2 separate regions of the Homo sapiens genome follow, and region 2 is linked to region 1. The links come from fine-mapping of genetic effects on gene expression. Tissue or cell type: whole blood. Region 1 holds a variant in brackets; the other region holds the start of a gene. All regions are shown on one strand. Distances are between the middles of the regions.

Evidence for each region. PIP is the estimated chance that this variant, and not a neighbour inherited with it, causes the effect.
Region 2: ZNF385A starts here. The variant in region 1 is fine-mapped to the expression of ZNF385A in whole blood (TOPMed, PIP 0.93).

The regions. Positions count from the first base shown.
Region 1 is chr12:54,273,989-54,282,091 of GRCh38, reverse strand. CBX5 (chromobox 5) reads left to right here and starts at 1,970. Exons shown (of 5, transcript NM_012117.3): 1 at 1,970-2,084. HNRNPA1 (heterogeneous nuclear ribonucleoprotein A1) reads right to left here and starts at 1,366. Exons shown (of 11, transcript NM_031157.4): 1 at 1,270-1,366; 2 at 590-706; 3 at 151-297; 4 at 1-2. The coding sequence starts at 1,284. SCAT2 (S-phase cancer associated transcript 2) reads right to left here. Exons shown (of 2, transcript NR_157844.1): 2 at 3,029-3,440. RefSeq lists enhancers at 87-845, 1,588-1,647, 1,658-1,747, 2,038-2,087, 1,606-2,365 and 1 more and a cis regulatory region at 271-2,571. The variant C/A (reference allele first, on the strand shown) is at 4,610.
Region 2 is chr12:54,379,818-54,387,920 of GRCh38, reverse strand. It overlaps ZNF385A (zinc finger protein 385A), which reads left to right and starts at 3,188. Exons shown (of 7, transcript NM_015481.3): 1 at 3,188-3,493. The coding sequence starts at 3,407. All of the region lies in intron 1 of GPR84-AS1 (GPR84, ZNF385A, ITGA5 and GTSF1 antisense RNA 1), which reads right to left. RefSeq lists an enhancer at 1-631.

The sequences.
Region 1 (8,103 bases):
TCCTAATAGGAGAAAAACCATAGGTTTAGATTAGCAAAGCCTATACTCGAATAAAAAATTTTGGTAAGTTTAGAAAACTCCCGAATCTTAAGTCCATAGCAGCACATATCCAAGTAAGTTTAAGAAGAAGAAGAAAAAAAACCCACTCACTTCTCTGGAGACAGCTCTCTTTGGTTCCACAACTCTTCCATCCACCTTGTGTGGCCTTGCATTCATAGCTGCATCCACCTCCTCCACAGTGGCATATGTGACAAACCCAAAGCCCCTGGAGCGCTTGGTGTTTGGATCTCTCATTACCTGAGAACAGTGTTAATTTATGTAACACAAAGTCTGACCGCAAAAGCTTTTGTCATTTTAACTTTGAATAGGGCAATAGGAAACTTTACACCAGCCTTTTATAAAAAGTCGTCCAGTTTCCCACTACCCTAGATTTAAGAGGTAGCTTTTAAAATCAAAGCAGGACGTTCCTTTGCCAACAAAGCTCTAACTATAATGCTATTAACTACTTTCATAAGCATTCGGAGAAGACTGCACCAAGATAAGCCAAGGAAATCGGCTGTTTTACTGCTTTGTCCCTTCCAAATCTTACCACACAGTCCGTGAGCGTTCCCCATTGCTCAAAATGGCTCCTCAGGCTCTCATCAGTTGTTTCAAAGCTCAACCCTCCAATGAAGAGCTTCCTCAGCTGTTCGGGCTCTTTAGGAGACTAGAGTGGGGGGAGGGGGAAGTGTTAAATGGGCTACAACACGAAACAATTTCCATCGAGGAAAAGAAAAACTAGACACCAACTGTGTACCTAGCACTTATTGTTCGTTCAGGTCGCAACAAGACACGTGCTTCTGCCTATCAAGGGAGGCCGTATGCTGGAGTTGGGAGTGCTAGGAAATCGCAAGCGCATGCGTCCCTAGTCGCCTTCCGACGCACGCGCAACAAAGGCTTGGGCGGTAGGGGTGCATCTCCACAATGGGACTAATCGCTCTTTAGAAAACTCGCTCACCAAGGCAAGGTTTAAAAAAAGACAAAGATCCTGTGTGCCTAAGAATTTTGCTACGAGTAACGAGTCCCGCATGATAACTCATGGTTGGCGGAGAGCGGCCTCATGGCGATCAAGAGGACAAAATGGCGACTTGAACTTTGGGAGGGGTAGGCCGTGGCAGCGACCGAAGGAACTGTAGAATGGGCTGGTGCAAGGAACGAAACCCAGCAGCATCTTACCGATTCAGGAAAGGGAGAGGAAAAAATTCAAGTGGGAAAGCGCGCCTAACTCACCTCTGACTTAGACATGACGGCAGGGTGAAGAGAGACTTTAACGATGCTTCTTCGGCGGCGTCCACGGGCAGAAAGGAGCAAGCTGACGAACGTATCTGCCAGCCTACCTTCGCCCTCTCTTTTTTACCCCGCCTCCTCGCTTTCGGCATTGGTAGACTCCGCCCTGGAACAGCTCTGATTGGATACTTGAAATCGCTTCCCCCTGCTATTGGCCTGTGGTGCCACATTGCTGTGTAACGTCATTCCTTCGGTCGTTCTACGCCGTCTCCACCCCTTGGAGTCCATTGGTTCCCGAGTAATGTTATTGTTAACCAGTCTGATTGGCCAACCGACCAATCATTCACATTTGAATCTACCTTGGGTGTTTAACATCTTTTTAATCTTCCACGCGCAAATATTACAGTCAAGTCGCTTGGCAAAGCATGATTAACACTATGTATTAGACAAGCAGCCAGGAGGTAACAATTTTTTTGCAATGAACTCTTGTTGACCGCACGTGTAGTAAAATGGCGAGTTTTGCGCAGGCGCATTAAGAAGTTCCACCTGCCTCTGAGAACACGTGAAATGGCGGGCAGGAGTAGGCAGTGAACCTACGGCGCCTGCGTGTTGGCGGGAGTTTGTCCTAGCTTTGCGCATGCGTAGTGGGCGGAGAAAAAAGGTCCGGTCCCAGGATTGGTTGCGCAGGCGCAGGGAAGGATCCGTTTTGGCGGGCGGTTGGCGTTGCGCAGAAGGCGGCGGCGGTGGTGGCTTGTGGTGCGGCCTCACCATACAGGAACAGGGCAGACGTTAGCGTGAGTGATCACTCTCAATCCCGGGTAAGTGGCAGACAGTCTTATCTACCCATAGTAGGTCTTGAACTGACTCCATTTGGGCCCGTTATTGTGTGAAATGAATGGACGGCGGGGTGGGGGGATAGTGAAGGGGCAGCGGTGGGTCGGGCCAACCAATAGAAGAACAGGGGGCGGGATGTTTTAATCCCCGTAGGTTCTTTGGAGCTGTGCAGCCGAAGACTTTGACTGGCTTGTGTATAGGCCAATTGGGTCTGCCTTGAGCTGCCGACTGATCGGCCCTTGGGCCATCGGAATGTGGGAGACGGGTTTTCCCCTTCTGAGCAGCGTCTCACTGAGCCAGTGAGCAGGAAGCGCGCGGTAGGTTGGGCTTCTCCAGGAGGCAGCGGTTTGACTCCAATGGGGAATGCGGGATCGGGCGGTTAAACGGATGGAACGAATCTGGAACCAGTAGACGGACAGCCTAAGGAAAGCGCTGGGACCAGTCGTCCAATCGGCTCTCCAAAAGAGGGAGGTCTTCGATTTGGGGTTGTGAGGAAGGGGAGTCGGTGCCTGTAATGGCGTGTGAGGGTGGATGTTTTATCCACGATGACTTCTCTAACGAAGCCTTTAGGCCTCAGTCCCATACACCTCCTTGAAAGCGTAAGTTTGCTCCTGTATTCCTCGACTTGAGCATTTTTCCCCCGCCCCCTCACCACTTGAGGTTTGGGGAACAGGAGTTGTTTTTTTTTGTTTGTTTGTTTTTAAATAATACTTTCAGAAGTCGCTTCTTTAGGAAGACTGTTAAAATGTTAGAACGAATGGGAGAAATCTCTATGTACTGTCATGGAAAGGCGTTCAAGAAATATCTCCTTCCTGATAGTGCATATTTCTACTGACAAATATGTTTGTAGGTCCACAGAAAAGTTTTGGAAAGCTACACACCAAAGTGTCAATCCTAGGGACACAGTAGGATCGAGGCAGATTAGATCTTTAATGTTTAAAACTTTGCAAGGTTAATAATTTGTGATTAAAATTAAATAAAAAATGAAGTCGATTGTTTTGTGTTTCTAGTCATAATCACATACTTACAACCCCTTTTCTGTTTTATGTAATCCATGTGCCCAGTGCTTTTATTTTAGTCTCTTTCTCCCGGGAACTTTCATATATTTCTTTTCTTTACACCATTGAAGATATCCTAAAGTCCCTCTTTTTGCTGTTCCTTTGAGGATATCTGACTTTGGAATAAAAAAGAAACAAAGAGGGTAATATTTAGGGTTCTGGGGACAGAAGATTCATCCATCACCTGGATTATTCCTTGCCTTTTAATTAGATTTCCTTCGAAGTGTGTTTTACATGCAGTCTATCTCCTTTTGGTAATGCCCACTCTGCTTATTCCAGGATCTTTTGGAGAAATAAATAAATTTTGATAACATTGGCTGTATCAGAGTCTTACTGCTTTATTCAATAATTTATTCAGGATCAAGGGAAAATATTTAAATACTGAAAATCAACTACCTATGAAATACACTTATAATTAGAGACCTTTCCGACTTTATACCAAAGACAGACGATTTTAATAGCAGTTTATGAACAGAGGAGAGATTTCCATGTTCTCTGGCACTAGCAAAAGGACAAACCTATAATTTATACCTGGCTGTAAACCTATTTGTAGGTATGCTAGTAATGGAGTTGCTGAGCTTCTGAGAACTAAAGTGATACTGGTTAAGGGTATCTGTCCTGGATTTATTTAGGTTTGGAAGGAATACAGTCTTGACCTACAGCAAGGTTTCTCAGCATTAGCACTGTTGGTATTTTGAGGCAGATAATTCTTTGTTGAGGGTGCTCGGAGTGTCCTGTGCATAGTAAAATATTTAGCAACATTCCTGGCCTCTACCCACTGTATGCCAGTAACATCGCATCACTCGCCACATCCCCATTTGTGACAGATTGTTTCCAGACATTGCCAAATGTCCGGGGAGGTAGGGATGGGGGATAAAATCTCCCTTGGTTGAAAACCATTCATTTAAAATACTGGAGTATGCAGGGCACAGTTTCGTGTTCCTGTAGTCCCAGCTACTCTGGAAGCTGAGGCTGAGGTAGGAGGCTTGAGTTCAGGAGGTCAAGGGTGCAGTGTGAGATGATTATGCCTGTGCATAGCCACTGCACTCCAGTCTGGGCAGCACAACAAGATCCCATTGCTAAAAAAATAAAAATAGAACACTAGAGTTTATTATTTTTTCAAAATCCATTATTTTACCAATTGGAAAATAGGTAAAGGTGAGAAGATGGTTGAAATGTTTAGGGAGTGGCCTTTGGTAAATGGATCACTAAATCCTGATGTTATCTCCTTAGATACAGAATTGATCATTGTTCCATTTAATAAAAGGAAATTTTTATTAAAATTTTTACCACTTGGTCTGGCGCCGGTGGCTCATGTCTGTAATCCCAGCACTTTGGGAGGCCAAGGTGGGCGGATCACTTGAGGCCAGGAGTTTCAGACCAGCCTGGCCAACAAGGTGAAACCCGTCTCTACTAAAAACAAAAATTGGGCTGAGCGTGGTGGCTCATGT[C/A]TGTAATCCCAGCACTTTGGGAGGCCGAGGCGGGTGGATCACTTCAGGTCAGGAGTTTGAGACCGGCCTGGCCAACATCGTGAAACCCCGTCTCTACTAAAAACACAAAAAATTAGCCAGGTGTGGTGGCGGGTGCCTGTAATTCCAGCTACTCGGGAGGCGGAGTCAGGAGAATTGCTTGAACCCAGGAAGCAGAGGTTGCAGTGAGCCGAGATTGCGCCACTGCACTCCAGCCTGGGCGACAAAGCAAGAGTCCGTCTCAAAACAAAAAAACCCACAATAATTAGCCAGTCATGGTGGTGGGCGCCTGTAATCCCAGCTACTCAGGAGGCTGAGACGGGATAATCGCTTGAACCTGGGAGGCAGAGTTTGCAGTGAGCCGAGATGATGCCACTGCACCCCAGTCTGGGCGACAGAGTGAGACCTTGTCTCAGAAAAAAAAAGTTTTTACCACTTTTTGCTGCTTAAACTTACACATACGATTGATTGCATCTTGTCCTTGTTTGGCTTCCTAAAATAATGGCAAATATGTTTTTGAAGAAGGTAGACTTTGCCTCACATCCTTCTTTTTCACTTGATTCTAGCTAGCCTCTTTCTTTTCCTGGGATTCTTTTGGATCCACGTCTCAAAACTTTTTTGACCGCAATAAGAAATATATTTTACACTAATCCTGTACACACATTGAAACATTTCACTAAACGTGCAGAGTACTCTGATATTCTTTTGTCTGCAGTATACTATTTCATTGTCTTAAGAAAGCAGTCAATTTCCATTGAACTGATTTCACAGCTGTTTATAGACCCAGGGTTTTGGGGGAAAAAGACTGCTGATCTGAAGAATAGGTCACCAAATCATGCCAACTTTGATTGCTTTCTGAGTCAGTTCCTTCCATCTCCAGCCCCAGCCACTTGTACAGATGGTCCCTTGCTTGTGATATTTCGACTTAAGATTTTTCACCTTTACAACGGTGTGGAAAGCAATTTGCATTCAGTAGAAACCATATTTCAAGTATCCACATAACCATTCTGTTTTTCACTTTCGGTACAGTAATCAACCAATTACATGAGATATTCAACACTTTATTATAAAACAGGCTTTGTGTTAGGTGATTTTGTCCAACAGTAGGCTAATGTAAGTATTCTGAACACATTTAAGGTAGGCTAGGCTAAGCTATGATGTTCAGTAGATTAGGTGTAGGAAATGAATTTTCAATTTTTCATATTTTCAACCTATGATGGGTTTATCAGGACATAACCCCATCAAGGAGTATCTATGTAAACAGATTAAGCAGTGACCCATTATTTGGTGTTTTTACTCATGTGTTTTACTTTGAAAGATTATAGGAGCCAAACCGAGACTTTCTAGTTTACTGTCGTGTGCAAGTGAAAACTGCTTGTTTTATTGTGAAGTCTCACAATGCTTAAAGAGGGAAAACAATAAAAATATTGCAAAATGTCTCCCAATGTGATAGGTTTTTTTTTTTTTTTTTTTTGGAATGGAGTCTCGCTCTTGTTGCCCAGTCTGGAGTGCGGTGGCACGATCTTGACTCACCTCAACCTCCGCCTCCCAGGTTCAAGCAATTCTCCTGCTCCAGCCTCCTGAGTAGCTGGGATTACAGGCATACGTCCGGCTAATTTTTAGTAGAGACGGGGTTTCTCCATGTTGGTTAGGCTGGCCTCAAACTCCTGACCTTAGGTGATCTGCCTGCCTTGGCCTCCCAAAGTGCTGGGATTACAGGTGTGAGCCACTGTGCCCAGCCTCCAATGTGGTAGTTAATAGATATGATGAACTTTTCTCTCTGGTGGTGAAATTTTAGTGGGTAATTTTTCATTGAAATTCTGGTACTATCACAGAGTTAGAAATCCTAACTTCCAATGTGATACGTGTTGGGCCTCTAATTACAGAAGTTATAACGCTTGTGCTTAGAACTTAGAGACATACTGCCTGGGCGCAGTGGCTTATGCCTGTAATCCCAGCACTTTGGGAGGCCGAGGCGGGCAGATCATGAGTTCAGGAGATTGAGACCATCCTGGCTAACACGGTGAAACCCCATCTCCGCTAAAAATACAAAAAATTAGCCGGGCGTGGTGGCACACGCCTGTAGCCCCAGCTACTCTGGAGGCTGAGGCAGGAGAATTGCTGAGCCTGGGAGGCGGAGGTTACAGTGAGCCGAGATTGCACCACTGTACTCCAGCCTGGGTGACAGAGCGAGACTGTCTCAAAAAAGAAAAAAAAACTTAGAGACATACCTACTATTGCAACCAAATCTAAAAGGGGTGTTTACTAAAGGGGAATATATTCTGTCTGAAAACTAGTAAGTGGAAAGCTTCAATTTGGGTAGTAGGTGAGCAGGATGATAGTTGGGGAAAGAAAGAGTGAGCCTACATTTGAAGCGGCTGGATTTGTATATGGCTAGGGAAATTCTGGAGATTCTCAGAGCCCTTAACAATACTCTAGAAAAGAGAAAGGTTTGGTATCAGGGTACAAAGATTTTTGAGGAAGACTAAGTCGCTTTTTGTTTCTATTGAGATTTGTTTGTTTTTGAGACAGAGTCGCGCTCTGTCACCCAGGCTAGAGTGCAGTGGCGTGATCTCGGCTCACTGCAACCTCTGCCTCCCGGATTCAAGCGATCCTCCTGCCTCAGCCTCCCGAGTAGCTGGGACTACAGGCACGTGCCACCATGCCTGGCTAATTTTTTTGTATTTTTAGTAGAGACAGGATTTCACCGTGTTAGCCAGGATGGTCTCAATCTACTGACCTCATGATCCAACCGCCTCGGCCTCCCAAAGTGTTAGAATTACAGGCATGAGCCACTGTGCCCGGCTCTATTGAGGTCTTTAACCACATAGCATGATTTCCATATCTTATTGGTATAGCCCATTTAATTAATAACTGTCCTGGTAAAGCATTTCTAGTCTTTATTTTGTCCTTTTACTTAGATTATTTTTATTTCCATTCATCTTACATGAAACTGGGCCTAAAGCTGTGTTATGGATATTGATTTTAAAAGTAATAAATTACAACATGAGATACCACTTGACTTAGTATGGCTGTTTACATATCTGCTATTCGTGAACTCGGACTCTGGGCAATCATCTTTTTCTCCTGATATAAACTTTTATTTTTCTTCCTTGCTTATAGAGAATGATTTTAACTGATCATTGTACTAATAGGAAGGAGTCCAGGTCATCCTGAGAAGAGTTCGCTTGTCCAGAGTCCAAGATGCAGATTTGTTGGATTTCTGTAAGCCACTCGAAGCCACATATTCATTTCTGATGACAGCTTTACACTTGTGCTGGAAGAACACCCACTGTGACAACTGCTGCCTATGTTTAGTCTGTCCAGGAGCTCTACCAACTAGCATGTTTGCAGAAAAACCTACACTGTTCTTGTTAGCAGCTATGTAAATATTAGATCTTTCTGAGTTTCTCTTCTCAGATCTGCCAATTTCTTTGGGGCAAATTGTATCCTGCAGTAGCCTCAATTTACCCTTT
Region 2 (8,103 bases), 110 kb before region 1:
GCCTTTTCCCCTCCTCCCCTTCCAGATCTACCCAGAAAAGTGTAGTGCTTGAAAGCCCTGTCTCTGGAACCAGACAGACAGGTTCACGTCACTCACTAACTGTGTGACCTTGGCCAAATAACTCTCCTTCTGAGCCAATTGTCATCATCTATAAGATGAGATTCATTTATTCAGCAAATATTTATTGAGTTCTCACTGTGACATGCCAGCATCTTACATGGATTTGTTCAATCCTGTCAACAACTTGGTGAGGCAAGTAGTGTTGTTTTCATTTGACAGATGAGAAATGAGACTGAGAGTCAGAGAACCTAGCTGCTCACCCAGCTAGTGAGTGGTGGGACCACCTACTGGGAGATTGTGTATGTAAAGTGCCTGGCCTATAGTAAAGCCTCAAAAAGCGGCAACTATTGTTAGCCTCAGAAAAAGAGAGGGAGAGGCCTAAGGCCTGGGCTACCTGAAACCAAGAGTCCTGTTTCTGCCCACCCGGCCCAAAAGCTGCCATCTGCCTCTCTCGCCACCTCAGAATGGAGTGGACCCAGGAATCTGGGAAGTAGATAGTTTGTCTCCAGTTGCCTGCCTGCTTCCTTCCCTCACTGTACCCTCATTTGACCCCTCTCTCCCACTCCACTCCCCTCCCCTCCCCCGCTCACCCAGGGCTCATGTCTGTGGAAAAGATGAGTTGTTAGCCATAGATAACTGAGTGGCTGCTACCTGTTTTCCTCTATCCCTCCTCTGGAGGAAAAATGAGGACTCCAACCTGAGGAAGTGCATGGAACCTGCTCTCCCCTTCCTCTCCTTGAACAAGATGGAAGCCTGTGCTCAGATCTCTGCTTCAGTTAAATTCAAGCCCTTTGGGAGTAAGGTAGCAGAGAAAGAATTTGCTGTAGAGTCCAGCAGATCTTGATCTATATCTCAGCTCTGATATTTACAGGCTGTGTGACATCAGCCAAGTTTGTTAACTACTCTGAGTCTCCATTTCCTCATAAGTCAAGTAGAAAAATATTATCAGCTACTTCATTGAATCATGGCTACTTCATTGAGCTACTTCAGAGGTTAAATATGATAATACTTGGAATTCATTACCTGGCACATAGTAGCCTCAAATTTTTTTCTGTGGCTTTTTCTGGAACTCTGCTGTCTCCTCTTAAGATGGCTTTGAGGAGTGGGAGCCTAGAGAAATCTAGAACCAGGGAAAGGGTCAAGCCAAGCTTCAGCCTCTGGTGCTCTGGGGCAGGGCAAGTGCCAGCCCAAAACCAGCTGCTGGGGGTGGATGCTGGGTGCAGGGGACTCTGGGAGCACTCAGGTTTCTCTCACCATTCCTGATGCCGCCTGGGGCTCATTAAGGCTGCCCTGGCCTTGGGTAACAGGCAGTAAGGGAGGGTGGGGCACAGAGGGCAGATGCCATAAGGGGACAGACCAGGAAGGGGAGGTGGTCAAGCTGCCCCATCCATCTATCTGTCCCTCTCTCTTCTCTTTTATCTTTCTCGCTGTCTCTGTTCTCTGTCTCTCGGTCTGTCTGCCCTAGTCTCTAGTTCTGTGTCCAGCTTTTCGGCAGTGTCTCTCTGTTTGTATGTCTGATTTCGCTCTCTGACATCTCTCCATTGTTCTCTATCCTTTTCTCTCTCAGTGTCACTGTCCGATTCCTCAGTCACCTATTCCTGCTGCTACCACTCTCCCATCCTCTCACTCACTTTCATCTGTCCGTCTCTCTGTGTGTGTGTGTGTGTGTGTGTGTGTGTGTGTGTGTCCTCTCTCCACCCCATCCCAACCTTGAAGGTGACAGAGGAGGGAATAGACACAAAGCATACAGACCCCCAGCTACTTAAGGGTCAAAGCCAAGGATCTTACCCTCTCCTTTAGCCCTGAGAATTCTGAAGCCCAAACTCCCAGTAGCCTTGACCCCCTGCTCTGTCTCAGTCACCCTGACCACCCATCCTGGCATGGGGTGAAAGAGACAGACCCCTCCAGACCTTTCTGGACCAGCTCCCAGCCCCCAGCTGTGCCTGAGCCCTCCCCACCCCCTCCCTGTCGCCTCAGATTCCCCTAATCCCTGCTCCCCTGCCCTCCCCTCTGCCCCACTTTTCCAGGATTCTGATTGGCTGATTCTACTGACTGGGCTGAGGGGGAGGGGGCTGGCAAGGGAGGGGGCAGAGGGCAGAACCAAGGGAAGGGGACGCTGTCAGGCCCAGGCCCCTGGGGGGCCAGGGCCAGGCCACTGCCTGGGGGCAGCAGGCATCAGAAACTAAAGGTATGAAAGGGGGTGGTGTCTGGAGGGAACAGGAAGGGATCCTGGAGACCTTCTGCTCTAGTAAAGTCAAGGGAGGACGGGCCAAGCACGCAGCCTCCTCGGTTTGCCTTTGTTCCTGGGAACCCCTGTTGCTGTCAGGGGGTTACTGGAGCAGTGAAGGGCGGCCAGAACTCCCCAGCTGGTGCACAGCAGGGTCGCAGAAGGGAGCTGGGCCAGTGGAAGCCCAGAAGGGCTCTGAGGACCTTTGGGCTGCCCCTTTGGAGTCTGGTGGAGTTCCTCCCGTGACTCTGAGAGGAGGAGGAGAAGGTTTCAGAGAAGGGTAGTTGAATGGCTGGCCTGGACTTTCATTTCCCCTTGGGGTCAGACCCAGGCATTCCCCGCCCATAGGCCAGGTCGAGGTTCCTCCTGCAGAACTGGACCTGTAGCTGAGCATTCCTGGTGAGACAAAAGGGCATGGGGGAAGACTGAGGAAGGTTGGGAGAAGGGGCTCTGAGAATGGCCTAGGTAGTTCACCTCCCAGAGCAAAAGCCACCCAACCCACTACCTACCCCCACAGATGTCAATAGTTAATAAAGAATTATAGTTAGAGCAAAATCTAATTCTAGGGCATCTGAGAGATTCAGCAGCCCCCCTCCAAATCTAAGTCTCAATATCCCCCTCTGGTCAGTAGGATGAATCACCCACTTGACTCTCTTCTTCCTGGGGCGATACCAAGCTTTAGGATCCCCTGGGGGAAAGCAAAACCAGAAGAAGAGGGTGGCCAGGGGCTTGAGGCTGGGAGTCCTGCTGGTTCAGCAGGCAGCCTGCAGAAAAGGTATGAGCTCTTACTGGGTCTGTAATGTGCCTAAGGAGTTTGGGGGAGGGAGGCTGGAAAAGGGGGAAGTGAAAACCACCCAGAAGGGAAGGACTGGTCTACACCCTCCCCCAGGCCCACAGGGCACTGTGCTCCATTGCTCTGGAGCCAGCAGGGGAAGTGTGTACACTATGTGCACTGAGGGTGACACTTCTGAGTGTGGGGGCCCTGGCTAGGGAGTGGGACTGGCAGGCTTGGGTGGGGTTCCCAAGCTTTAATCTTCCTACCCCACAGAATGTTTTCTCTGCCCTTCAGGCAGCCTGAGCCGGGCAGGGCCCCTGCCTCTGCTACGGCAGCCCCCGATCATGCAGCCCCCACTGGACCTCAAGCAGATCCTGCCCTTCCCACTCGAGCCAGCCCCTACCCTTGGCCTCTTCAGCAACTACAGCACCGTAAGTAGCAGCCTGCCTGCCTTCTCCATCCTCTTGTGACCCGACCTTTCTCTCTCAGACCCACCTCTGCCCTCTTCTTCTGTTTCTAATTCCTTATCTCCTCTTATGACCCCATCTTCCTTAATTCTAGTTAATTTTGAGTATTGTGGGCCATCTGGTACAGTGTTAACAACAATAATAATAGCTAATATTTGCTGAGGTCTTGCTACGGGCCAGACACTGTGCTAAGTGTTTTATATGAATTATCTCATTTAGTCCTACAGTGAATCGCCCTACCATCTAGAGAAGTAATGAGACTTAAATTGGTGGTAGTAACAGTAGGGAGGTAGGAGGGGTGTAGGTGCTGAATCCAGAAAGAGGGAATGAGCAGGAAAATAAGCATGCCTGTTTGTAAGTTTCACCTCTCTGCAGTCCACGGCTGGGTGGGTAGCATCAGTGGGATAGGGCTTGGAGGACTGGCAAGGTGGTCTAGATTTAATACAATATGAAATAAGGAGGTGCTGTCTATTCGTGTGTTTGTTTGTTTGTTTTTATGAGACGGAGTCTCACTCTGTTGCCCAGTCTGGTGTGCAGTGGCACGATCTTGGGTCACTGCAGCCTCCACCTCCCCAGTTCACCGATTCTCCTGCCTCGGCCTCCCAAGTAGCTGGGATTACAGGCGTGTGCCACCACACCGGGCTAATTTTTGTATTTTTAGTAGAGATGGGGTTTCACCATGTTGGCCAGGCTGGTCTCAAACTCCTGACCTCAGGTGATCCGCCTGCCTCAGCCTCCCAAAGTGCTGGGATTACAGGCATGAGCCACCACACCCAGCCGCCACTGTCTATTCTTGAGCAGGAGAGTGACTTGGTAAGAGCAGTGTTTGAGGAAGGTGAGTGGGGCAACTGGATGAAAGGGAACAGAGGCAGGAGGAAGGTGACAGTTAGGAGGCTGTCCTAGCAATGCAGGCCCGAGGGAAGCCTCAAAAGCCAGACGGGGCTGGTGGCAGTGGCAGTATGAGTGGAGAGAAAGGGAGAATGGGGGAGGTAATTTCAAGGAAATATTGACAGGCCATGGTGACCAACTGGTGTTTGGGGGTGGGGGAGAAGAGAAGGCATGAGTCAAGGATGACTCCAGCATTCAGGCCTTTGTGATTGGATGGAAGTCACCACTGACAGAGGCAGAGGGTTGGAAGAGGAAGCTGGTCTCCAGTGAGGATGATGCTTTAGCATGTGGTGCTAAAGCTAAAGCTTTATTTGTTTTGTTTTGTTTTGTTTTGTTTTTGAGATGTAGTCTTGCTCAATCTCTCAGGCTGGAGTGCAGTGGCATGATGATCTTGACTCATTGCAACCTCCGCCTCCTGGGTTCAAGCCATTCTCCTGCCTCACCCTCCTCAGTAGCTGGGATTACAGGCACGTACCACCATGCCCAGCTAATTTTTGTATTTTTAGTAGAGATGGGGTTTCACCATCTTGGCCAGGCTGGTCTGGAACCCTGACCTTGTGATCCACCTGCCTCAGCCTCCCAAGTGCTGGGATTACAGGCTTGAGCCACCGTGCCTGGCCTATTTGTTTTGTTTTAAAAAATAATAATAAATATTTTTTTTAAAAAAAAAAGGATATGGTGATTTGGCATACCAGTAGGACATTGAGCCCAAAATGTTCTACAGATAGTTAGAATCTGAAGCCTGGAAGGTGGGCTAGAGCTAAAAGTTTGGGGAAAGTCAGCCTTATTCAACTTAAATAACCCACATCAAACCATATTTAGCCATAAACATGTATTGAGCATTGACTACACACCAGGCACTGTAGCAGATGTTTCTATCTGCAATCTCATTTCACCTTCACAACAACCCAACAAGGTAGACATTATTATTCCATTTAACAAATAAGAAAGCAAAAACTAAGCCTCAGAAGGGTTTAGTAATTTATATAAGTTGACACAGTATGTGCCTAAGGTATGATTTGAACCCATTGCATCTGACTCTAAACAGACTTATCGTTATACCACAGCTGCTCCCCCCAAATGAGGGACCCAGACACACATTTGCATTGCACTTTTAAGTTTTCAGACTGGGCCAGGCGTGGTGGCTCACGCTTGTAATCCCAGCACTTTGGGAGGCCGAGGCAGGCGGATCACAAGGTCAGGAGATTGAGACCATCCTGGCTAACATGGTGAAACCCCGTCTCTACTAAAAAAAAAAACAACAAAAAACTAGCCGGGCGTGGTGGCGGGCGCCTGTACTCCCAGCTACTCCGGAGGCTGAGGCAGAAGAATGGCATGAACCTGGGAGGCAGAGGTTGCAGTGAGCCGAGATTGCGCCACTGCACTCCAGCCTGGGCAACAGAGTGAAACTCCATCTCAAAAAAAAAAAAAAATTCAATTTAACAAAAAAAAAATTTTTTTTGAGCACCTACTATGTGCTGGGTACTGTGCCTGGTGTCAGGGACACGGGACTCAGTTACCACACTTGGGGAGCTCATAGTTTGGTAGGAAGGATAACAAGTTAACAGTTACCCTATACAGTGTGAGAAGAGCTGTGTCAGAGGCATTTTGCTTGCATGGAAGCCCAAGTATCAAGAAAGACCTTCCTGGATGTGATGGGGCCTAAGGGACCAACCAGAGTTAGGCAGAAAAACAGAGAGCAGAGGAAAAAGGGATTTAACCTGGAGCAGGTGACATATAATTTGGGCTTTGAAGAATTATTGGCAAGATTTTTAAAGTAGTCTTAGAGAACATTCCAGACTGAAGTAAGTAGCATGAACAAGGGCTAGAAAGGAGCATTTGAGAAAGTGCAAGATTGGATGTGACTAGGTCATAAGATGGGGAGAAAACCTCCCCCCATCTAAACACCTGACTTACACTTGACCTCAGATCTTAGCAACCCCATCATTGTCCCCATTGTATAGATGAGGAAACACAGACGCAGAGAGGTTAAGTGAATTGTCCAAGGTCACAAAGCTACTTAGTTGATTGGATAATCCAGGGTTTCGACTCCTGCAGAGTTCATGGCTCCACTGCCTCTAGCAGAGGTATTTAAAGCGATGAGCATGGATAAGCTTGAAGAGTTCAGCAGGGTGTTGAACTGCATCCTGCATCTGATTGGCAGGATTTAAACTGATGTTCCAAAGTACTGGCTGTGTGATCTTAGGCAAGTTATTTAACCATTCTGAACCTCAGTTTTACTGACTGTAGAATGGGATAGTTTTTTTTTTTCTTTTTTTCTTTTTTTCTTTTTCTTTTTTTTTTTTTTGAGACAGAGTCTTACTCTGTCCCCCAGGCTGGAGTGCAGTGGCCCAATCTCCGCTCACTGCAACCTCAGCCTCTTGGGTTCAAGTAATTCTCCTTCCTCAGCCTCCAGAGTAGCTGTGGCTACAGGTGCACACCACCACGCCCAGCTAATTTTTGTATTTTTAGTAGAGACAGGGCTTCACCATGTTGGCCAGGATGGTCTCAATCTCTTGACCTTGTGATCCGCCCGACTCAGCCTCCCAAAGTGCTGGGATTACAAGCATGAGCCACTGCGCCCGGCCAATTTTTGTATTTTTAGTAGAGATGGAGTTTCGCCATGTTGCCCAGGCTGAGAATGGGATAGTATTAACACCAGCTCACAAGGTTGTGAGATCATATTACATAATCATAATGCCTAGCACAAACTAAGTGCTCAATCAGTGTTAGCTGCTATGATTATTATGCTATTGCTATTGTTTTTATTTAAAAGAGGAGTAAAGAGAGAAACTTAGGATGGTCAAGGCCTTAGCCTTCGGGAACGTGCAGAATTAGGCAGTGGGAACAGGAAGAGGCTTCAGCAAAAGGAATGGAAAAGCCACTGGAGCGGGTGGGGAGGGAAATATGTTCCTGTAGAGTTGGAGAAGCCAAGGGAGAGAGTGTGGCGGGCTGCATCAATACTGTCAAATTCTGCAGGGGAATGAGGACTGCAGAAAAGCTGCAGACAGGCCTTTGGAAGTACTGTGCAGCAGTTAAGTACGTGGCTTTGGAGTCAGACTGCCCAGGTTTAAATTCAAATCCCAGTTCAGTCACTTACTAGCTTATGACCTTGGGCAAATTATTTAACCTCTCTAAACCTCAGTTCCCTCCTCTATAAAATGAAGATAATAATAGTACTTACTTCAAATAGTGGTTGTGAAGATTAAATTAGATAATCCATGCAAAGAGCTCAGTACAGAAGCTGGCACATTGCAAGGGCTCAATCAACATTAGATGGTGGTGGTGATATTATTATTCATGACAGAGTCTCTCTTTCCCAGTGGACTGGCACCTCCAGTGCTCTCTCCTACTTGGGCAGTTCCTACTCCTTAGACCTCTTCTAGAATTACTGTCTCCCCTCGTTCTCCTCCCACTCACTCCACTGCTTCCCTCTGCCCTTGGACGTCCCTCACTGTTTCCCAAAGCCACCCTCTCTCTAGATCCAGTCCCCTGCTTCACTAATGTCTCTGCCTTAGGTGGGATGGGAGAAGATGAGACCTAGAGATGAAATACTGGGAATCCCAGGACCTGTCTAGACAGAACGAGGTGTCTGGGGGAGTGGGCTGCTAGGCCCTACAGCCTCTGGTCCCCCAGTGCTGCCCCCACTGAACCGCCAGAGGGCAGCAGGTGCACGAAGCGTGGGC